7 linked regions of the Homo sapiens genome follow. The protein of the gene in region 1 purifies or fractionates together with the protein of each later gene. This does not show direct contact. Each region holds a gene or a part of one and is shown on either strand. Other genes may lie near its edges.

Evidence for each region.
Region 2: the proteins of OCLN (region 1) and EFEMP1 purify together in Homo sapiens (affinity purification with mass spectrometry; 2 studies listed by BioGRID and IntAct, with this or other methods). This does not show direct contact.
Region 3: the proteins of OCLN (region 1) and ACAD9 purify together in Homo sapiens (affinity purification with mass spectrometry; one large-scale study listed by BioGRID and IntAct). This does not show direct contact.
Region 4: the proteins of OCLN (region 1) and STX12 purify together in Homo sapiens (co-immunoprecipitation; one large-scale study listed by IntAct). This does not show direct contact.
Region 5: the proteins of OCLN (region 1) and EPN1 purify together in Homo sapiens (affinity purification with western blotting, with the first as the bait; one study listed by BioGRID). This does not show direct contact.
Region 6: the proteins of OCLN (region 1) and MIA3 purify together in Homo sapiens (affinity purification with mass spectrometry; one large-scale study listed by BioGRID and IntAct). This does not show direct contact.
Region 7: the proteins of OCLN (region 1) and FBLN1 purify together in Homo sapiens (affinity purification with mass spectrometry; 2 studies listed by BioGRID and IntAct, with this or other methods). This does not show direct contact.

What each region holds. Positions count from the first base shown.
Region 1 is NC_000005.10:69,499,290-69,502,789, forward strand, and holds part of OCLN (occludin), read left to right. Parts: intron 1-3,500. UniProt on the Homo sapiens protein: May play a role in the formation and regulation of the tight junction (TJ) paracellular permeability barrier.
Region 2 is NC_000002.12:55,871,783-55,875,282, forward strand, and holds part of EFEMP1 (EGF-containing fibulin-like extracellular matrix protein 1 precursor), read right to left. Parts: intron 3,284-3,500; coding exon 3,164-3,283; intron 2,187-3,163; exon of another isoform or gene 2,101-2,186; intron 1-2,100. UniProt on the Homo sapiens protein: Binds EGFR, the EGF receptor, inducing EGFR autophosphorylation and the activation of downstream signaling pathways. May play a role in cell adhesion and migration. May function as a negative regulator of chondrocyte differentiation.
Region 3 is NC_000003.12:128,896,620-128,900,119, reverse strand, and holds part of ACAD9 (complex I assembly factor ACAD9, mitochondrial), read right to left. Parts: intron 2,489-3,500; coding exon 2,410-2,488; intron 834-2,409; coding exon 659-833; intron 1-658. UniProt on the Homo sapiens protein: As part of the MCIA complex, primarily participates in the assembly of the mitochondrial complex I and therefore plays a role in oxidative phosphorylation.
Region 4 is NC_000001.11:27,800,719-27,804,218, reverse strand, and holds part of STX12 (syntaxin-12), read right to left. Parts: intron 2,542-3,500; coding exon 2,404-2,541; intron 1-2,403. UniProt on the Homo sapiens protein: SNARE promoting fusion of transport vesicles with target membranes. Together with SNARE STX6, promotes movement of vesicles from endosomes to the cell membrane, and may therefore function in the endocytic recycling pathway.
Region 5 is NC_000019.10:55,681,726-55,685,225, reverse strand, and holds part of EPN1 (epsin-1), read right to left. Parts: intron 1-3,500. UniProt on the Homo sapiens protein: Binds to membranes enriched in phosphatidylinositol 4,5-bisphosphate (PtdIns(4,5)P2). Modifies membrane curvature and facilitates the formation of clathrin-coated invaginations. Regulates receptor-mediated endocytosis.
Region 6 is NC_000001.11:222,665,802-222,668,507, reverse strand, and holds the end of MIA3 (transport and Golgi organization protein 1 homolog isoform 1 precursor), read right to left. Parts: 3' UTR 501-2,706; downstream 1-500.
Region 7 is NC_000022.11:45,509,383-45,512,882, forward strand, and holds part of FBLN1 (fibulin-1 isoform D precursor), read left to right. Parts: intron 1-3,500. UniProt on the Homo sapiens protein: Incorporated into fibronectin-containing matrix fibers. May play a role in cell adhesion and migration along protein fibers within the extracellular matrix (ECM).

The sequences.
Region 1 (3,500 bases):
GTCTTGGACTCCTGGGTTCAAGTGATCTTCCTGCTTCAGCTTCCTAGAGTGTTGGGATTACAGGTGTGAGCCACTGTACCTGCCCTGTAATTTTTAATTTTTTTTTCCCCTGAATATTTTCTGTCTGAGGTTGGTTGAATCAGAATTTAAAACCCATGGATGTGGAGGGTCAGCTGTATTTGAAAATGGATACAATATACCTAAGTGCCTAAGCACTGAAATTTCTTACTTTCAGGATAACCACCTTATGATGAATGCAGTTGCCCATTTTCTTGAAGACTTTTTCTTGTGGTTTTTTTCTTTCTTTTTTTTTTGAGCCGGAGTCTCGCTCCGTCGCCAGGCTGGAGTGCAGTGGCGTGACCTCAGCTCACTGCAACCTCCTCCTCCTGGATTCAAGCGATTCTCCTGCCTCAGCCTCCTGAGTAGCTGGGGCTACAGGCGCGCGCCACCAAGCCCAGCTAATTTTTGTATTTTTTTAGTAGAGACAGGGTTTCACTATGTTGACCAGGATGGTCTTGATCTCTTGACCTCGTGATCCACCCGCCTCGGCCTCCCAAAGTGCTGGGATCACAGGCGTGAACCACTGCGCCCAGCTCTTTAAGACTTTTTCTTATCCCAGTGCAGAGGTCAGGATTATTCCCGCATTTGAGTGCACTTAGAGGAGATAAGGAATTTGTCTCAGATTGCGAGCCAGTAAATGGGGGCTGTTAAAACCACTAGGTTGTTTCAAACTCATCATTCTGACATTACAGAGATCTTGCTTAGTGTTGATGGCCCTAGCCAATGGGTTAGTTATCCTTTCCAGTGTGTTTGGTCAGCTGCAAATCTGGATAAGCGTGTCTCCTCCACTTTGTCTGTGTTTACCAGTGGAGACCTCCCACCAGGTGGACATAAATGGTTCATTCTTTTGTGCTAATTGGGTGCCGTAATCCAGCCCCTTGGGAATCTGCCCACCCACACAAGGATGTGCTCAAGATTTTCAGGATTCTTTCTCTCTGCATTCCCTGAAGAGGAAATAATAAAGGAGAAAATAAAATCCACCAGTTTGGTAACCTTCCCAGAAAAGGAAATGAAGTTGGTGTGGCATGACTTGTTCTTAACGAGCTTTCTTTTCTTTTTTTTTTTTTTGAGACGGAGTTTTGCTCTTTTTGCCCAGGCTGGAGTGCAATGGCGCAATACTGGCTCACTGCGAACTCCGCCTCCCAGGTTCAAGCAATTCTGCTACCTCAGCCTCCCAAGTAGCTGGGTTTACAGGCATGCACCACCACGCCCCTCTAATTTTTTGTATTTTTAGTAGAGATAGGGTTTCACCACATTGGTCAGCTGGTCTTGAACTCCAGACCTCATGTGATCCACCTGCCTCGGCCTCCCAAAGTGCTGGGATTACAGGCATGAGCCACATGATTTGGTTCACAATTTAAAATCCGTGCTTTTGGGGAGACGTGACAACTCTGAATCCTGGAAATAGCAGTTTGAAAAGGGATCTTGTTTGAATTTTTGACAACTTAAGACTGAGTCTGGATTAATTTAGAGTTTCCAAAACTACCACTGAACCTAGAATTTGGGGATATTTGACATTCAGCTTCAGAACTAGGATCCCACATTTAATAGTGCTTAACTTCAGATTTTCTGTTTTACTTTTTTTTTTTAAAGGAGTCTTGCTCTGTCACCCACGCTGGAGTGCAGTGGCACAATCTTGGCTCACTGCAACCTCCACCTCGGGCTCAAGCGATTCTCATGCCTCAGTTTCTCAAGTAGCTGGGATTACAGGCACGTGCCACCATGCCCAGCTAATTTTTGTATTTTTAGTAGAGACGGGGTTTTGCCATGATGGCCAGGCTGGTCTCGAACTCCTGACCTAGGGTGATCCACCTGTCTCCACCTCCCAAGTGCTGGAATTACAGGTGTGAGCCACCTCACCTGGCCTAAATTCAGTATTCCTTAATGTTCTTTTTCTGAAGACAATCTGGACTTTTGCCTTTTTATAGTACCATAACATTTTCGCCTAAATTGCTCATTTGTATGTGTGTTTCACCATTACTAGAATATAGAGAAATTGGCCAGGTGTATTGGCTCATGCCTGTAATCCCAGTACTTTGGGAGGCCAAGGCAGGTGGATAGCTTGAGCTCAGGGGTTTGAGACCAGCCTGGGCAACATGGTGAAACCTTATCTCTACTAAAAATACAAAAATTAGCCAGGCGTGGTGGCATGTGCCTGTAGTCCAGCTACTTGTGAGGCTGAGGCAGGAGGATTGCTTGAGCCTGGGAGGCAGGTTGTAGTGAGCTGAGATGATGGCACTGCATTTCATCCTGGGCAACAGAATGAGACCTTGTCTCAAAAGAAAAAAAAAAAAAGTATAGAGAAATTGACTTGAGTGCTAGTTACAGGGCTGTGTACACTTATGATTTGTGCACTTTTCTCTATGGTATACTTTAAAAGTGGCTTTTAAAAATGTAGAAAAGTCATCTTCCTTCATGTCTTTGGAAAATTATGCTAATTGTGTTGGTGTTATTAACATTCTATATATTTCCATCTTTGAGGATTTATCTAATACATAGTTGGGCAGGGTTTAATTCTGAGAGATTTGAAATACACTGTCCTAAAGGGTATAGAAGAGAGTTGCCAGGTGGGGCGTGGTGGCTCATGCCTGTAATCCCAGCACTTTGGGAGGCCAAGGAGGGCAGATTGCCTGAGCTCAGGAGTTTGACACCAGACTGTGCAACATGGTGAAACCCCATCTTTACTAAAAATACAAACAATTAGCCGGGCGTGGCAGCGTGCGCCTGTAGTCCCAGCTACTCGGGAGGCTGAGGCAGGAGAATCGCTTGAAGCCGGGAGGCGGAGATTGCAGTGAGCTGAGATCATGCCATTGCATTCCATCCTGGTGACAGAGCGAGACTCGGCTCAAAAAAAAAAAAAAGAGTTGCCATTAATTTAAAAAAAAGTTTTAAGAGTCTGAATTGATGTACTGTTGTTAATATATTAATGTATGATTGTACAGACCGTATTAGAAAAGGAAAAAAAATCAGATACTTTAATGTACTCATTATAGATGTTACTCAAGTGTCATTCAGGGATCATACCTTTTAAAGTTACTCTGATACTTTTCCGTTACCTTCAACTTGAAAGCACAAGAGGTTTTGCAGGCAGAGATATCCATGGTCCAATCTGGTTCCTGTAAACATTCAACAAATTATCTGGACGTCTACTATGTGCCAGGCATTGATTTAATCAGTGAACAAAACATGCAAAAATTCCTGCTCACATGGAATTTACCTTCCAGTAGATCTCAAAGTTCCCTACTCTACTAATCACTGGTATAACCTGGAAAGAATTTATTGTTGGTTCAACATAGCTAAGGAGTGGCATGAAGTTCTGTAGCTGATGTGGGAAGTACCTTGCCAGTGTCTCCAGCACTGGGTTTTCTAGAATAATCCTCAAGCTTTATAGGTTAGGGGGTTGTGTGTTTACCACATCTTGCTGAGACTTGTCTTTTTCC
Region 2 (3,500 bases), on another chromosome or scaffold:
TGTCCAGAGGAAGCACAGCACAGGAAGTGAAACTATGAAGTGTTCCACCTCATAGAGCATAGCAATTTTAGGACTGTAAGGAAAAAGAGGAAGTTAAGGAAGAGGCTGTCAGTGCAGGGAGACAACCCAGGAAAAGGCAATGCCAAAGAAGTCAGAGGGAGAGAGAATCCTGGGAAGAAGGGTTGTGTTTACCTCAGGCTGGACAAAGATTGACTTTAAATTTGGGAATCAGAAGCCTCCAGATGACATCTGAGAGAACAGTTTTACTAGAGAGCCATTACATTTATAACAACAACAACAACAACAATAAAAATAAAATTAATATCTACATCTCTATGTCTGTCTCCCTTTACATTTGAATAGTGATTTATATTTTATTCAATGTAAACTTTTTCTGAATCATTCCTTCTCCACAATGAGATATTTTTATTCATGAATTTACTCATTCCATAAGTAATTTACTGAATCCTTGCTGTAAGCCAAGCATGGGCTAGGTGCTGGGATATGATCTCTTTTGAATTCTCATACCCGGTGTTCTTTTTTAAGGGCCTTTATTGCTTTCTGCTTTGCATTATTGCAATCTGCATGTCTAGCTTAACCCTTCTATTAGCTTGTAAACTCCTTGAGGGCAAGGGTTATTGTACCCATCTTTTAATCCTTTCATCACCTAGCATTAATGCAATAGAGCATCTGGCTTTTAAGAAATATTAAATTGAACTAAGTTGCTCTTCACACAAACTGTGTGGAGGTAGGTGAGAAAGATATTTCCACTTGATATGGATGAAAAACAAATAAGGGTTTAGTGGCTCATTCAAGTTCATATACTCTAAATAATTCATGCCTTGACTTTGGAGGAAAAAAAAGTATTTTAGCTTCCAAACTGGCTAAAGTTATCTGGAACTCAAGAACAGACTGGGAAAGCTAGGTAGTCTCCAAGAGACAGTTACAAAAAGTGTCTTCTTGGGCTGGCTATGGCTGAAGAAAGAAAACTTAGATTCTTCAAATGAAATCACAATTGACTTATCCTTTCAGTATTTTCCACTTTTTTGAAGAATAAAGATGCTGTTTAGGTACAGGGAAAACTAATACTTATTTGTTATATGGAGTCCAACAGAAGCAAAAGACAACCTTATAATTTCATTTATTACTTCCATTAATGTAGAGCCTAGCATAATCATCACCTTAATCATTCTGGAAGATTTTTCAGAAATTAATACTCTCAAAATATTTGATGAGTGTGTGTCTATGTGTATGTGTATTCTTTTGTCTCTCTGTCTCTCTCTCCACACACACACACACACACACACACACACACACACAGTTTTCATTTGTATAGGCCTGTGAAATGAGAACAGTTATTTCATCCACAAAATAAGTCTTTTAGAGAAAGTTAAGAATCCAAAACTTTCAATTTCATTTTATTCCTGTGGACAAGGCTCAGAAGGAACGATTTCCGTAGGAGAAAGCAATTGCTTTATACTTTAGAAGAATGCTAAGTCTTTTTCACAAAAAATGTTTTGGCTTAACCAAACATTCTGAAGCTGCATATCTTCAATATATAACATTTAGGAATCCCCCACTTACAATTTTGGTGCATTTTCCACCTTTAATTACAATAGATATAAATGTTTCCACATAGATAGGCTAGGCAGGTCGGATCCCACCGTGCATTAATCTGCTTCTGTCTTTTGCTGAGCATCAAATCAATTTTTGATCAGAAACACATAGATATTTGTTTGAAGGACTCCAGAGAAATTTGTTAAGACATTCCACTAGCTAACATTTTCTTGCATGTAATATGCATGTTGAAAGTCTCAATTAGGGTTCAGTAAGTAAAATCATTGGAATGCAATGTTTTCCCATAATTAACATTTATAAAGTCTCTAGTAACCTGGAAAGGGTTATAAAGATGTTCATTGTGCAATGAACTACATTCTGATTATGCTCATACTCAGTGGTTGGAGTCTAGTCGAAAAATTGTGTGCCTATTATAAAATCCCAGGTAATGGATTTCCTCTAAGTTAATATTTTCCTGTAAAATCATGATATAGACTGAGAATCCCCAGTGTCTCCTTTCCTTGATCTTTCTTTTCTTAACAGGATCTTTATTGTCCTTGTGTGCCTTCACTCCAACTCTGATTAAAAAGGACTCTCTACAGAAGACGTACTACTGGTCACTTACATTGGTAAGTAAATTTCATAAAAACACCTTGACCTGTACAAGCTTTATAGTTTACAAATTATTTTTATGTATGTTATTCCACTAAATTCCCACAACTCCCTTTTCCAAATGAGGAAGCTGAGGCTCAGAGTAGTTTGATAATTTGTTCAAGATTGTGCAGACTGAATACAGTGGAGCTGGGATTCAAACAGGTTTTCTGTCAAGTTTGGTCATTTTTTCATTCTTTTGTTGCTTTGTGTAAATTTAAGTGTTTGTACTAGCTTTTCCAGGATTTTCTACGTTTTTGGTTTTATCTGACAGTCCTTTCCCTGTTAAGAAAATTTTCAACTACATGCAACATTGGAGGTAGGGTCCTTTTTTTTTTTAGATCTTCCTGAGAAACTCTGAAATCATACCATTGTGGGGAGCTGCCTCTTCCACTTACGTATAGGTGTGAAGATCATCTGAATGTTTATTTTGAAACTGGACCCAAGGTCATTAGCTATTTTGGGGCTAGTAGTTTTCTCTAAAATATTCAACTATATTTTACAACATATTAGGCTGACTTTTCTCAGCACCTACATTCTTACGCAATTTATAATCCTTGTGTTTTAGAGGGCTAAGACTGGATGGAGGTATGTTTAACTCACATATTGAGCTTATGCTCTAAACTCAAACTCACAGGTGAAACATTTTAATAACTGAATCTTTTCCAGTGGATGATTTGAAGATGTATCTCAAAGAGATGATGTAGGTTACATAGAATACATATCAATATTTTATTAAAATTATTTATCTTTTAAGGACGAAAAATGTCGGCATTAGCATAGAATCACCTCTTTATGAGATGTATATATTTTATGATGAACAGGGGAAAAAAGAGCTTAAATTGTATATTGAAAGTGGGAAAAATGAAAGTCTATAGGAGAATCCTATAACTTCCTCTTGTCTCTTCCTGGCTAAAACTAAATACCTAACATATGAAAAAAAAAATAAACTTACCTTGACATGTTCTACTTCTCACCACTTGGTATCCCTGGGGGCACATACATGAGAATTTCCCAGGTTCATTGACACATTGATATTGACACAGGTAGCTTGAGGTTCTGCATTCATCAATGTCTGTTGAATTAGACAAGAGAAAGGACACAGAGTTGAAAAGTTTGTGCACCACTACTTTGGATATATATATATATATAAATTATATATATATATAAATTATAAGATTTAAAATATCTATATTAAAATAATTATATATAATTAAAATTATTTATATTTTAAGGAGGAAAAATTATATCTACCTATATATATATAAAGAGATCTGGCTTCTTGTCCTATT
Region 3 (3,500 bases), on another chromosome or scaffold:
TCTCTACAAAAAATACAAAAATTAGCCAGGTGTGGTGGTGCACGCCTGTAGTCCCAATTACTTGGGAGGCTGAGACAGGAGAATCACTCGAACCCAGGAGGCAGAGGTTGCAGTGAGCTGAGATCACAGCACTGCATTCCAGGCTGGGTGACAGAGGGAGACTATGTCTCCCACGGCAAAAATAGTACTTATATGGCTTGGCTTGGCCCCTTAGGTGCTTATGATCTGCTCTAAGAACAAGCCTCCAGATGGACCTGAACCCAGATGGACCTGAACCCAACTCACAGCCTGAAGCAGGCTGCCAGGCACTGCAGACTGAGACAACTAAAGGCTGGGGACTGTAAGCTGAGCTCTAAGGTGGTGTGTCTGCTAGGGCAGCTACAGCAGGGGATGACCAGCAGGCCTTCAAGTGAGCAGCACTCAGCTGCAGGAACAAAGACAAAGCCCAAGTGGCATTCTTAATTTGATCTTTTTAAAATGCTTAACAAAAACTGAAAGTGTTTAAATCTCATTTTATCTTGCTATTTGGACAGAGTCAAGGGCCAGTCTCCCCCTTACACACACACACACACACACACACACACACACACACACACCGTCAAAGGCCAGTCTCCCCCTTACACACACACACGCGCACGCGCGCACAGGAGCTACTTACTGTTGGAGCCCCGAATGCCTAATTTATCTTCGGGTTTCCCATTAGTGACTCCACCAAAGTCTCTTTCTACTATGAATGCTGTGATTTTGTCTTTCACTGATCCATCAGAATCAACGACCTCAGTCTTTGCAAACACAGTAAAAATATTGGCCAGTCCTCCATTAGTAATCCAGACCTGAGGACAGAAAGATGGACTTTGGAGAAAACCAAACCCCTATGTGACCCACCTCAGCTCTGTCTTTGTCCATCAAGCTCCAGCTGCCAGTCAGACCTCAGGCCAGACATGCAGGGTCCTTGGCTCTGCAGAAGCCAACCAAGCATGAGTGAATAGAGGACAGGGCTCAGCCCACTTTCCCCAGAGCAAGGATTTTCCCAAGGGACATGGATGGCCAGGTGGAGGCGGGGGCGGGGGAAAGAACACCCAAAGTTGTCAGACAGCTCAGGCTCCACCGCCAGACAACTGCATTTCTTCAAGAAAGAAAGGGTTTAATCATTTCTTAAGGTATACATATATAAAAACATCATGTTGTAGATGTAAATACACACAACATTTATTTGTTAATTCTACAAAGAAATGAAAAAAGGCGGGAGGGTGGTGAGGAGGAGGAAAGGAAACAGAGGGAGACAGAGGCAGAAACAGACTCCTTAACAAACAGCAACAGATGGGACTTGTGTGGATCTTAATTCAAGCAAACAGTTAAACCAAAAAAAGGTATGAGGCAATCAGGGATATTTGAATGCTGATAGAAGTAAGAAATTATTAGCTGGGCACAGTGGCTCACGCCTGTAATCCCAGCACTTTGGGAGGCCGAGGTGGGCAGACCACTTGAGCCCCGGAGTTTGAGACCAACCTGGGCAACACGGTGAAAACCCATCTCTACCAAAAAAAAAATACAAAGAGTTAGCTGTGTGCCTGTACTCCCAGCTGCTTGGGAGGTTGAGGTAGGAGAATCACCTGAGCCCAGGAAGTTGAGGCTGCAGTGAGCCAAGATCGTGCCACTGCACTCCAGCCTGGGTGACAGAGCGGGACCCTGTCTCAAAAGAAAAGAGAAATTATCAATTTTTAAAATGTGATAAGGGTATTACGGCTTTGTGTTTATTAAAAAACAAAAACAAACAAAAAAAACTCCTGTCTTTTAGAGAGGCATGCTGAGATTGTTACCATGCGATCTGGAGGTGGCGATGCTGCTGGAAGAGGCACAGTGGCCATAAGCAGGTGACTGCCGGAGTTAGGGCCAGCCAGGCACACAGAATATGTCTGAAACTTTGTGTAACAAAAAATTTAAAGATTTTTTGGGTTTACAAGCCGGGCACAGTGGCTCATTGCCTGTAAACTCAGCACTTTGGGAGGCCGAGGTGGGCAGATCACTTGAGGTCAGGAGTTCAAGACCTGACTGGACAACATGGTGAAACTCCATCTCTACTGAAAATACAAAAATTAGCCAGGAGTGGTGACACGCACCTCTAATCCCAGCTACCCAGGAGGCTAAGGCAGGAGAATCATTGGAAACCTGGGAGGCAGAAGTTTCAGTGAGCTGAGATTACACCACTGCACTCCAGCCTGGGTGACAGAGACTCCATCGCAAATAAAAAAAACTAAAAAAAATTAAAAACAAACACATAAAAGCAGCTCAAGAAGGTAGTCGGTGCTACAGCAGCAGGTACAATCCCTGGTGTGTGGAGAGTGCTCACTCAGTGGCAGTGAAGGTTGTGACTGAGACCCTAATGTGGCCATGGGGAAGGAACCCTACCTTGGAGCCATTGAGGATGTAGTGCTTCTTGTCTTCACTTAGTGTGGCTCTGCTCCGGATTGAGGCTGCATCGCTCCCACTGCAGATGCAGAAAGATGTGGTCAAGGGAGAATACTGGGAATAAATATGAATGCTTTTGAGGGCCTGAAAATGGAGGTTTTAGTACTTGTAAGAGGTCAGCAAACTTTTAAAATGAAGGGTCAGATAACATATTCAGCTTTCCAAGCTGCAGGATGTCTGTCTCACCTCCTCAACTCTGCTGCTATTAATAGAACATGAGGCTGAGGCAGGTGGTTCACGAGGTCAAGAGATTGAGATCTGGCCAACATGGTGAAACCCCGTCTCTACTAAAAATACAAAAATTAGCTGGGTGTGGTGGGGCATGCCTGTAGTCCCAGCTACTCGGGAGGCTGAGGCAGAAGAATCGCTTGAAGGCGGAGGTTGCAGTGAGATGAGATTGAGCCACTGCACTCCAGCCTGGGTGACGCAGCAAGACCCTGTCTCAAAAACAAACAAACAAAACTTATTTATAAAAAACAGGCAGGAGGCTGGATTTAGCCGACCTCTGCTTCAATACATCACGTAAAAAAGCGGCAGTGAAAACAACTTGGGCTTAGGTTTAAACATGGAAATGGGTGCTTGCAATGGGCTCATCTGAGGTCCTGTGAGGATGAGTTCTGGGCACCCCAGGAAGGATGACTGTTCCCAGGTTCTCATGCAAAGTGAAGCAGGATGGAGGATGGTCCAGGTGATGGACTTATCATCAGAGTCCCGAGTGCTGCCGCAGCCCTGCTCCATCCAGCAGATCACACAGCCTCACTGAACCTCAGCTCCTAATGTGTAAGTGGGAGCAGTACCACCCACGCTATATATTCTGAAAGGTGCTTTGAAGCCGGAACGTTATTACTATATTGTATGTCAAGGTGTGTTGTAAACCACAAAAATTTATTTAATAAGTGCTGTCAAGCGTGGTATCTCACTTGCAAGTCTCACTGGGACAGAGAAATAAGGTCAAGATAAGAGGAATGGCAAGAACAGTTGCTGAGTTGATTCTTTGCAAGATTTTGGAAAGAAGGAAAAGTCAGCTACTC
Region 4 (3,500 bases), on another chromosome or scaffold:
CCTGACCTCAGGTGATCCACCCGCCTCGGCCTCCCAAAGTGCTGGGATTACAGGCATGAGCCACTGCGCCCGGCCACAGAATTTAATGATTTTTAAGAGTGTAATGGGTTCCTGAGATTAAAAAGTTTGACAACTTTTGTTCTATTGAGTTGTATCTTTCTTTTTCATATTGATTCATGGGAATTCTGGGGTTTTTTTTGTTTTGTTTTTTGTTTTTTGAGATACAATCTTGTTGTGTCGCCCAGGCTGGAGCACAGGGGCACAATCTCAGCTCACTGCAACCTCTGTCTCCCTGGTTCAAGCGATTCTCCTGCCTCAGCCTCCAGAGTAGCTGGGATTACAGGCACGCGCTACCACGCCCAGCTAATTTTGTATTTTTAGTAGAGACAGGGTTTCACCATGTTGGCCAGGCTGGTCTTGAACTCCTGACCTCGTGATCTGCCCACCTTGGCCTCCCAAAGTGCTGGGATTACAGGTGTGAGCCACCACGCCTGGCCGAATTCTTTATATATTCTAAATGCTAGTCCTTTGCTATTAAATATATATAGCAATGTCTTCTCCCTGTGACTAGTCTTTTCACATCTTTACCACTTTTTTTGTTCTTCATTTCTTTCTGCTTTTCAGACTTTCCATCTGAGATCACTTTCCTTCCATCTGAAATACATTATTTAGAATTTCCTTCAATAAGATGTGCTGACAGAAAACTCTCTTTTGATTGAAAATGTCTTTAATTAGCCCTCATTCTGACATATATTTTCACTGGGTTTAGAATCCTAGGTAGGCAGTTATTGTCCTTCATCAACATTCAAGATAGCACTCTACTGGCTTCCACTGTTGTTGAGAAGTCAACTGTCAATCTAACTATTGTATCTTTGAAGGTATTCTAATGTTTCTCTAGCTATCTTTATGATTTTTCTCTTTGTCTCTGGTCTGAAGTTTGTCTTTGATGTATCTAGATTAGAGATTTTATTTATCCTGCTTGGGATTTGTTAGGCTTCTTGAAACTGCAGGCTAGTGTTTTTAATCAGTTCTAGAATATTATCACTCATTATTTCTTCAAATATCACCTCTGTTCTATGTTTGCCCTATTCTCACTCTATAACTCCAGTTAAAACTACGTTAGATCTTTTCTCTCCATTCTCCATTTTTCATAATCTTTCTTCCGTATTTAACCTCTTAACCCCCTATGCTACATGCTGGATAATATATTCTAACCAATTTTTTAGTTAAACCACCCATCCACTAAGTTTTTAAATTTCTATATTATATCTTTCCATTTTAGAAATTCTTTTGACACTTTTTCAAATCTTTGTGTAGTTTCCTGCAGAGGTTTTCAGCCTTTTATGTCTTTAAACACAATAAGTATAGTTGTCTTATAATTCTAATATAAAAAGTCTTTGTAGGTATATTTCACTTCATTGTTGTTTCTACTAATTCTTGTTCAGAGTAATTTGTTTCTTTGCACACATGGTTATTTTTAGTGACTGGTACTTACTGCCCTAGAAAAATTATTTGAGAGTATTATTTCAGGGCTAGGATAAAGGTGTCTTTCTACAGAAGGAATTTGTGTTTGCTTCTATCCCACACATAGGTGGCTCTCCCAGTCCAGGACCACTGAACCATTCAGGTAGGATGAATTTGAGCAGAAAATCTGCCTGAAGAAGGTTACTTTGTGGTAACCTTGTCTAGATTTCTCCTCCCTCCTGCCCTCCTCCTCCATCTGCTCAGTTCAGTGCTAATGCAATCTTTCTGTAATCTGCCGGGGGATAGAAGAGCTTACTTTTGACTTAATGTTCTAAGGATATAGTCTCTTAGGGCCCAGTTTAATTTGAGTTGTACCTTCTTTTATATTCTCTCTCTTGCATGGACCTTTGGCTTTGACTTTTATCCTCCCCATGCCATGAGGATATCAAAACTGAAGTTCAAGTTTGCCTTCAGTAAAGACATTCAATGCAAAAGCAGTTTCAGTATTCTGCTGACCTCTCAGGCTTTACCTTAATATTTTCATAATCTTTGATACTTTTGAGAAGTTGGATTTTTAAAATCCAGTATTTGAAAATCCTTTTCAAAAACAGAGGGCTAGTCCAAATAAACTAGCCTGTTATATTCCAGGAAACAGATTCATTATTTTTATTTTCAAGTTTTTAACGTTAAAACCAATATATCAAAATGAAAAAGAAAATTAGACATAGTTCTTCCTCCTATATCTCTTAACCTTCATTCAGATTCCTTTCTAGGCTTTGATCACATGCATATATGTTTTTTACATAGGTTACACCAACCTGCCATTTTCACAGCAGCTAACTTACATGTTTATTGGTCAAAGAGAAAAAGAAAAAAACCCACAAACTTGGAAAAGAACATTCTGATATTGCAAAGGTCTTCTTTTGGGAATCAACTTACAGAAAGACGAGATCCAGCTCTTGCTCTGGCAATACTCTCCTTTTCCTTTTCAGATACCCTTCTCTGCACAGCCTGGAAATTGTTTAAGGCTGCAGAGAAGTCATTCATGAGGCGTTCCTTCTGAAGTCTCTGCTGGCGCTAAGGAAATCAAGCAAGAACTTGAGATTTCATATTAACCCAGAATCATTTGGTTTTAATTTCCCTTAAAAGTAAAATTATACCCCTTAAAGATTTCCAACTAGGAAAATTATTATGAAATAGTCTCTTCTTTAAATTAATAAATTTGCTCTTTGCTAGCTCAAGTCCCTGGTTAATACTATAGACCAAGTCAGAATTTTTCTTCTTTCATTCTGACAAACCTGGAACTGGGTTGCATTTAACTTCTTCTTCTTTTTTTTTTTTTCTTTTTATTGAGACGGAGTCTTGCTCTGTCGCCCAGGCTGGAGCGCAGTGGCATGATCTCAGCTCACTGCCAACCTCTGCCGCCCGTGTTCAAGCGATTCTTGTGCCTCAGCCTCCTGAGGAGCTGGGATTACAGGCACCCACCACCATACCTGGCTAATTTTTTATTGTATTTTTAGTACAGATGGGGTTTCGCCATGTTGGCCGGGCTATTGTAGAACTCCTCACCTCAGGTGATCTGCCCGCCTCGGCCTCCCAAAGTGCTGGGATTACAGGCGTGAGTCACTGTGCCCAGCCTGTATTTAACTTCTAAAGTAATCTCCAAAGAACTGCAATTCAGAATTTTGGTGCCCTGGAGAATATAAAAGAGAATAAATACCTCTGGACTCCAGTTGAATCCAAACAGAGATGGGTTTTAGCTAAAATGTTAAAACCCTATTCATCTATATTGAATTCACAGCTTCCCTGTAAACTATAGAAGCATTTCACAGGCTTTTAGTGGTTTAAAATCTTTGAGACTTGGTAAGTACTTCATTTATCTACAGACTACCTCTACTAAGCTTGTTACTTCTATGTCTCAAAAAACATATGCTGAGGTTGAGCACAGTGGCTTATGCCTATAGTCCTAGTATTTTGGGAGGCTGAGGCAGGAGGATCACTTGAGCCTAGGAGTTCAAGACCAGCCTGAGCAACAT
Region 5 (3,500 bases), on another chromosome or scaffold:
GGAATGAACACAGACCCACGCTGTGACGGGGACCAGCCGCGGAGGTACTGCGCTCAGCGACAGACGCCAGCACAGAACGCCACACAGCCTACGGTTCCATCGACGTGAATCATCCAGAATGGGCAAATCCAGAGAGACGGAGTGGATTGTGGGTTGCCAGGGGTGGAGGGAGGGATGGAGAGGGACCACCTGAAGGCTATGGGTTTTCCTTCTGGGGCAATGAAGACGTTCTGGAGCTGGACAGAGGTGGTCGCCCAGCACTGTGAATGGGCCGAAGGCCACTGAACTGTGCGATATGAAGGGGGCTGCACAGTGTAGGAGCTCCATCTCAATCCAAATAAAAGAGGAAATGGCAGCTACAGGCACCACAGCCGCCATGGGCATCGCCTGGCATCCTGGAGCCCTGTCTATTTCTTTACAACTAAAATCTAAAGTAACATGGCCAAGAAAACCACATTAGTTAAATCACAATGAAGGGGGTCTTAGTACTAGTTTGAAATGTGTATTTCTGACTGTAAAACCTCACGCTGGTACTAACAGCCTGGAGCAGTAGTTTATCACCTCTGCAAGAAGGGAAGAGATCCACGCAAGGGCCTGTGTAGGCCCGGGCTCTCTTGGGAGGGGCACCCAGGTTCCACACCACCAGGAGCAAAAGGACAGGGCGGAGGGAACATTATCGTTCAATCTGCACCCTTTGGTATGTTTGTATTTTATAATACGAAAACAAACTCCCTTTCAACAAGTTGAAATTAATAGTGGGGGCGGGGGGACCAAGGTCTCTGAGGCTCTCCCTAGCTCAGGCTCAAGTCCTGGGCTTGAGGAGTCATGGCCCCCTTAAGGCTCTGCAGGGGGTGTCTTGGTCACTGACCTCAAAAAAAGGCACAACTTTGATTCTGCAGGGGATTCCAGGGCCTTCACAGAGCCACAGAAACCCACCCAGGGCTCCTAGGGGAAGAGTCAGCTATCACAGCTAAGCTCCGTCTGAACCAAGGAGAAATCTGCCAGGAAAGATGCCAGGGCCATTCATATCTCCTCACCCTCTGAGGCAGCTGGACCTAGCTCTGGCAAGGCCTTTCAAAGGTGTGTTAACAGTATTTACAGTGTAATCAGAGATTAGTCTTTAACCGGCCCTCAAGGTATTTACACGAAAGAAAGGAAAGCAGGTAAGCCATTGCTATGCCTGATCACACCCCAAGCCAAGAGGCAGTCCCAGGTCCACAACTCCTGGGGCCCTTGTGTTTTGGAATTCAGAATTTTCCTGAGTTCAGACCAGGAAAATAACGCACATACAACACATAAGAGAACGCGCTGGGCAGAGTCGTGCCAACAGCCACACTACTGTGGGACCAACAGACACCATGTGAACGACCTCACTTCAGTCTGGGTCAGACTTTGTGCCGAACGGATCATGAAACACTTTCGTTTCCAGAGCTCTCTGGACTTTGGTATCGCAGCTAAAAAGATTGTGAAGCAGGAAATAGTGCGAATACCCACGCACAGTGAAATGCATACATCAACTATGGCACGCTCACACAGCGGGACTACCACATACACTGAAATAAAAGAGAAATGAGGCCAGGTGTGGTGGCTCACGCCTATAATCCCGGCACTATGGGAGGCTGAGGCAGGTGGACCACCCGAGGTCAGGGGTTCGAGACCAGCCTGGCCAACATGATGAAACCTGTTTCTACTAAAAACACAAAACAACTGGCCAGGTGTGGCGGTGCACACCTGTAATCCCAGCTACTCAGGAGGCTGAGGTGGGAGGATCCCGTGGATCAGGGAGGCAGAGGTGATAGTGAGCCAAGAGCACGCCACTGTACTCCAGCCTGGGAGACAGAGTGAGACTCCATTTAAAAATAAATAAATAAGGCCGGGCATGGTGGCTCCCACCTATAATCTTACCATTTTGAGAGGCCAAGGCGGGCAGATCACAAGGTCAGGAGTTTGAGACCAGCCTGGCCAACATGGTGAAACACCATCTCTACTAAAAATACAAAAAATTAGCCAGGCATTGTGGCATGCGCCTGTAATCCCAGCTACTCAGGAGGCTGAGGCAGGAGAATCGCTTGATCTTGGGAGGCAGAGGTTGCAGTGAGCCAAGATAGCACCACTGCACTCCAGCTTGGGCAACAAGAGCGAAACTCCATTTCAAGAAAAAACAAAAAACAGGCTGGGCGCGGTGGCTCACACCTGTAATCCCAGCACTTTGGGAGGCCAAGGCGGGCGGATCACGAGGTCAGAAGTTCGAGACCAGCCTGGCCAATATGGTGAAACCCCATCTCTACTAAAAATACAAAAATTAGCCAGGCGTGGTGGCAAGTACCTGTAATCCCAGCTACTCGGGAGGCTAAGGCAGGAGAATTGCTTGAACCTGGGAGGCAGAAGTTGCAGTGAGCCGAGGTGGTGCCACTGCACTCCAGCCTGGGCAACACAGCGAGACTCCGTCTCATAAATAAATAAATAAGAAACAATAATTAAATAAATATATAAAATCGGGTGCAGTGGCAAAATCCTGTAACCCCAGTGCTTTGAGAGGCTAAAGTCGGTGGATCGCTTGAGTCCAGGAGTTCAAGACCATCGTGGGTGACATGGCAAAACCCCAGCTCTAAAAAAATAAATAAATAAAATAACAAAAAATTAGCTAGGCGTGGTGGCACATGCGTGTCATCCCTGCTACTTGGGAGGCTGTGGCAGGAGGATTGCTTAAGCCCGGGAGGCAGAGGCTACAGTGAGCCGAGAACATGTCAACGCACTCCAGCCTGGGCAACAGTGAGACTTTCTCAAAATAAATGAACAACTGCTTTATGCAACAGCACGGTCAACCTTGCTGACCTGATGGTGATGGTGAGCAAAAGAAGCCAGACACAAAAGACCACGCGTGTGACTCCACATATATAAAGCTCAAGAACAGTCTTGGCAGACAGAAATCAGACACGGTGCTGTGGGAGACAGGTCTCCTGAGGAAACCTGGAAGGCTGAATGCATCCTCTACCTCCCTCTAGGTGAAGGCTACACAGGTGTCCACATGCGTAACAGCTGTGTTATACATTCATGATGTGCTTAGTATACAACTTCTTAATGAAAAATTTAAAACCTTATTTTAGAAGTGAGCAAGTGGGCCAGGTGTAGTGGCTCATGACTATAATCCCAGCCCTTTGGGAAGCCAAGGCAAGAGGATCGCTTGAGCCCAGGAGTTCAAGACCAGCCTGGGCAACACAGTGAGACTGCCATCTCTACAAAAAAATTTAAAATATCTTAAAATTAGCCGGGCATGGTGGTGTGTGCCTGTGGTCCCAGCTATTCCTCAACCATGCTTGGAGCCCAGGAGGTCAAGGCTCAGTGAGCTATGACTGTACTGCTGGATTCCAGCCTGGGCTACAGAGCAACACTTTGTCTCTAAAAAAGTTAAAAAAAAAAAAAGTTTGCAAAATAAGTCATTATTTCTCCTTTGCTTTTCTGAAAACAACCAAAAAGCAGTGGGCAACTGCATAAAATGA
Region 6 (2,706 bases), on another chromosome or scaffold:
TAATAAAAACTATGCGAGCCTGAATGAATTCTCAGCCAAATTTAGTCTTGTCTCTCATCTTGATTGGATTAATTCCAAATTCTAAAATGATTCAGTCCACAATAGCTCTAGGGGATGAAGAATTTGCCTTACTTTGCCCAGTTCCTAAGACTGTGAGTTGTCAAATCCCTAGACTGTAAGCTCTTCAAGGAGCAAGAGGCGCATTTTCTCCGTGTCATGTAATTTTTCTAAGGTGCTTGGCAGCACTCTGTACCCTGTGGAGTACTCAGTACCTTTTGTTTGATGTTGCTGACAAGACCTGAAAAAAAATCCCTTAAAAAAAAAACCCATTAAAGTGTAGCAAAACCGATGTATTATTTTTTCTCTTTTCTCATAAACCATAAGATATGTATATCAAAATGATAATTTATATGAAGCATCTGCTATCCTTCACATAAGTATAGTTTATATGAACTACAAATACCTTTCATCAACATTAAAGAAGCTTAAATTGAACACTGTGTGATTAACTTAACTTTAATTCAGACCTGAATATAACGAGAAAATGAGTGATTATCTTGAAGTTGACACAGAATATACCACATCCCACGAATTACTTAAATTTACTTTCCAATGAAAAAAATCAGCCATTGGCGATATAACTACAACAACTATGGCAGAAATGCTTTCAGGCTGAATATTGCTGCTTCATAAATAAGACAATTTTAGCAACTAAATCCAGACACAATTAGTTGGAGATGACTTCCAAAATAGATGAAACTTTAGAGATGGAAAAGTGATTTGGCTGAGGGATGATACTCCCTATGCCATCTGCATATTGGCACCCTGCTTTGGGGTTTGCTGCAGAAATGGTGCAATCAGATGGATGTGAGGAAGCAGTTATGGACTGGCTCACAACTTCTCAGAGAAGCTACACTGGAATCTTTACAGCTTACCAGTTTCTCAATTATGTCAGATACAGAATAATCACCAAAAAAGGCTTTAGAGGGGAAAAATACTCTAATATTTTGAATTTTAAAAATAGATTTAATTTACCTTTCCTACTTACCTTCCTAGATGGCATAATCTACACTTAAATGACATTTAAAATTAGAAATTATATTAACTTCAGCATTGTTTTGTGTCCTAAAGAGATATTGACAGGTAAATTCAAAAGTTGTATTTGTGACTTAATCTTATTTTTACATGGCTAAAAGTGGCCTATGCTCTTCTGTGGAGTTTTCCTCTTAATTTCTTCTATTCTTGATATTAAACGGGAGGACATATAGATTGAATTCTCTTTTCCTGAAGAATTTTTATATTCCTTATGAACTTTGACAGAGTTGTCTTCTTTCAAAGGTCCTTATCTTTCTAAACTATCTATCTTCAGTTGTTTAGTATAAAGAGAGAAAATTGTTTCACATTGAAGCTTTTGCTCCTTTTTACAAGGTATTCTTAATCGATTAAATATCACAACAGTGACAAGACATACACTAGGTTTCAAAAATATTACATCATAGGACTTCAAAGAATGGAAGAATATAGCCTAGCAGCAAACAAAAGTATCAGCCTTTTATGATTTTAGTTTTAGTGTGGATCTGAAACTCCTTAAAAGGAGTGCTATTATTACTGTAATTAAAATGTCTGAAGTTCGTTCTTAGAAACGTTGTAGAGTATTTAAAGAAACATTGTTTTAAAGACAGTGTAGTAATGGATAAGACTTTAAGTATGGTGCAATTCCAGATGGTTAGTTACTGATTTTTAAATAAAAACACCAACGTTTAAATATTAATTAATATTAATTTTGGAATAATATCTGTCGCCCCCATTTCCCCCTAAAACAGAACTGATTTCAACCCTTGGTTGCTGACCTAGGGCATGTTATAACCCTCACAGTCCTAAATCATTCTTTCTCATGGCATTATACTCTTCCAATCTTTTTATTATATTCCTCAAAAATCAGTGGCAAGGAATGGGAAAGATAGATAAGGGACTGTACATTTTAAAATTTTTAAAGATTTCTATACTTTTATGGCCATGACACATCATTTTCATTTTTCTGTTGTGCACCCTTTTTCTACAGGAATGGTAAAAACAATGGAACATCAGGTCAAACAACTCTTGCTACTAATGTAAACTCACTCTCAGAAAACCATTCTCAAATAGACAATGAGGATCGTAAAGAAAGCATGTGAATGCTATACAAGTGGGAAATAAACTTCTTTGAAATAAAAAGACGTCACTTGTAGAGTTCACAGGTGACGGAGGAGCAGCCGGAAGTGTGCCACCAGCCACCATCTTCAGTTCTGGGAGCCTGAGTTTACATGTTCCCCAAATGGCACAAGCCTCATAACAGTCCAATGAGTCAACAGACACTTGGGAAATATTAATAAACAAATTTTTATGAGCTATTACTACAAAGAACTTCAGCAAGAGGGGAGATAGTTTAGTGATCTTTTAGTAAACATTTTTAGCGTAACAGTCTTTGTGACCAGATAGTTTAAAAAAACGCTTATAAACACCATTGCTCCGTATTCAGCTGGTGTACACTAAAAATAGGATAATGGAAATACATGTTCTTAAAGCATTTCCACAGGAAATGTTCATATTTTTCATGACATTCTAAATCATTTTGCAATTACATATGCTACATTAGCTAAAACACAGGTATTCTTTATTGCACATTTCAAAGTTGTAAGGACGCTCTAGCTTAAAAGGTGATTTTTA
Region 7 (3,500 bases), on another chromosome or scaffold:
CCATCCAAGACCCCTGTCATCTCCATGACAGATGCTGGGAACAGGCTCAGCAGTGGACACAGTCAGGTCTTGTGTTGGGGATGGGGCCAGGAGCCCTAAGAGCAGGCTCCAGTTCGCCCTGCTTCCTCCTGCAGAGGCCAGGTGGTCTTGAAGAGGGGACACGAGTCTGTCCTCATCCTGGAACTGTAAGGGATGCAGGGACATAGGCCAATCTGGCTGGACCCCTGGTGGCTTCCCAGACAACATAGTAAAACTCCGTCTCTACTAAAAATACAAAAAATTAGCCAGGCGTGGTGGTAGGCGCCTGTAATCCCAGCTACTCAGGAGGGGCAGGGTGCAGGTGGGGGTTGGGTGGAGTCGCCCAGTCCTGTTTGGTTGGAACTTTCCATCAGGGTCTCTGTGGTTGACATCTTGTTGCATTTCAGGCTTTTCGGTTCCTTGGTTCTGGACACCACGGAGGCCACTCCAACTCTTTGCTGTAGCTTTAGACAATGCTGTGGGGCAGGTGGGGTGGGGGCATGATCCTTTTGTGTGGTGAGTCCGGGAGGCACACAGGATGAAGCCTCAAGCTCCCATTCACTTTTAAAAACTCCTGACGCCCTCAGCTGCCTCTGAGTTTTTGAGCTTGAGCAGAGGAAATCAAGGAAATTGAGGCTGGCTTCTGATCACATGCCTTTACTTCATCCCCAGCTATTCACGGAGCTTTGCCAACTTAAAATATCCTCATTTGCCCGATGAGGATATTAAAATAAAAAACAGACACCCATTCAACCACCATCTCATATCGTCACCACTTCACAGAGGTAGGGGACATTTTAATGCCCCGGATTTTGGAAGGACGCGGTCTCACAATAAAAGACAGTATTGTAGATGGAATCGGGCCGGCTTTGTAGAGGTCCCTGGATCCTGCTTTGCTTTCACCCTATTTTGTTGCAACCCAGTGGAAATTTTGCCAGAGCAATGCCCTTACACAGGGTGGGATTGGGGAAGCCTGCTCTTAACTGCAGGCCAAATCCTCCATTCAGTTTATAAATGAAAAAACTGAGGCCCGGACTTGCTCCGGGTGGGAAAACTCTCAACCATGAGATCAGAAGCAGACTCCAGGCCTCCCGGTTCCCAGCCCCCAGTCTCCCCTCTGTGACAGTCTGCTTGCTCAGCAACCTGGGAATTAAGATCCTCGTGGCTCACAGGCTGCTGGGGATGGGATCAGGCATTGCCCAAAGCTTCTGCGATGTTTACAGCTAGCAGGCTGACATTCTGGAAGCTTCCACCCAAGGAGTGGTACAGAATCTCTCTGAGCATCTGTAGTCTTAGAAAGAGCACGTGGCCATATCCTTCCTGGGTGTCCAGGGCATGGTCCCCGCAGGCCATGTGACCTGTGTTTCTCTGCATGCCTTGGAACATGGGGCATGCCGCTGATCTACACCATAATCTTTATGGAGGTTTAACTCACCTGGAAAAAATTTAGTTTTAGCAGCTGTCCCAGGCAACAAACGGTATCTGAGGCCTGTGAACTGAGCCAGCTCCATCCATCTGCACCAGTTACTCCGGCAGGCATGTGTCTCTCCTGAAGAGAGGTGGTGGATGTGGTGGCGTGTTGGCCATCGGGCACCGTGTCAGCCTGGAGGAGTGTGTGGTTCCTTTGAAAAAGAATGTTCTCCCAATCCTGGTGTGATAACTTTTCCTTTTGTTTAATTTTGAAGCTTCTGTTTTTTCCTGTGGTCAGTGTGCTAATGTAAGCACTTTTCCTGGATTATCTCATCAATCTTCCCCCATTTTTTTTTTTTTTGAGACAGAGTTTCGCTCTTGTTGCCCAGGCTAGAGTGCAATGGCATGATCTCAGCTCACTGCAACCTCTGCCTCCTGGGTTCAAGTGATTCTCCTGCCTCAGCCTCCCGAGTAGCTGGGATTACAGGCATACGTCACCATGCCTGGTTAATTTTGTATTTTTAGTAGAGACGGGCTTTCTCCATGTTGGTCAGGCTGGTCTCAAACTCCCAACCTCAGGTGATCCACCTGCCTCGGCCTCTCAAAGTGCTGGGATTACAGGCATGAGCCACCATGCCTGGCTTTTTTTTTTTTTTTAGACAGTCTCACTCTGTCACCCAGGATGGAGTACAGTGGCACGATCTTGGCTCACTGCAACCTCTGCCTCCCGGGTTCAAGTGATTCTCTCACCTCAGCCTCCTGAGTAGCTGGGATTTCAGGTGCCCGCCACCATGCCCAGCTAATTTTTGTATTTTTAGTGGAGACTGGGTTTTACCATGTTGGCCAGGCTGGTCTCGAACTCCTGGACTGAAGTGATGTCTGCCCACTTCAGCCTCCCAAAGTGCTGAGATTACACCCATGAGCCACTGCTCCCGGCCTCTTCCCCCATTTTTACAGATGAAGGAAGTGAGCCTCCTTGAGTCTTAGTAAGGGAGGGAGCTGGATTCAAGGCTGAGCAGTTTTAACCCGCAGCGTTGCCTTCCCTGGGAACATTCGAGTTGAAGGTTAACGAGATTTTGCAAGAGTTTGCTCTTGGTTTATATCTAATATTATGCTTTGGATCTAACTCACATGGTCAGATGCAGGGGTCAGATTGAGACTGGTTGATTGAAACTCCTCCGAAACAACAGGAAATGATCTGGGAGAGAAGATTCCAGGTCCCCTGAGGCCCTGCTTCTCTCTTGATCCCCCACAGCCCAGTGTCGAGTTACCAGCGAGTGCCTGTTCTGCTTGGGTGGGTGTCCAGTGTGGTACTGGTCAGAGGTAATTTTTGGATCTCAGAGCTGCTCACAGCTGTTGGCGGTCTGGGATGGAAGAAGCAGGCGTGGCTTCGGTTGGCCCACATTATCCTCCTGACTCACAGTGTTCCAGGGCTGCTCAGCTGCCCTAGGGTTTGTGTACAAATGGCCTTGATTTGACACCCTTCTGAAGGTGGGGGGCCTGACTGATCAGGCAGTTGGTTGGATGCTGTTGACCCCCGCAGAACTCTTGGTACCTATGAGGCGTGGAGTTGGCGTGGGGGATCTGTTAGCCCCAGTCCCCTTTTTGCCCCCACCCCAGCCTGGCCGAGAGTCCTGGGCAGGCACTGAGAAGGCAACACATGGGGTAGGACTTGATGAGCAGGTGGATAGGACAGTGAGGTGGGAGGTGCCTCTGTGGGCCTCAGATGGTCCCCAGCCTGTGTGATGGGGCAGCGAAGCTCAGGACACCTGGTGTTTGGATATCCACAGGTGACCGGATCCCCAGGCAAATGAGCAGCTGGAAGTCCCTGCAGGGATGCGGGAGGCACAGCCAGGGTGGGGCTGGACCCCAGGCCCTTCCCCACTCCCATCGCCCCACCCTCACAGGACACACGGGGGAGCTGTGATCCTCAGGGTGTTCTTTTGTTTTTAGTTTTTTTGTTTTGAGACAGGGTCTCCCCCTGTCCCCCAGGCTGGAGTGTAGTGGTGCAGTCGTGGCCCACTGCAAGCTTGAACTCCTGGGCTCAAGCGATCCTCCCACCTCTGCCTTCC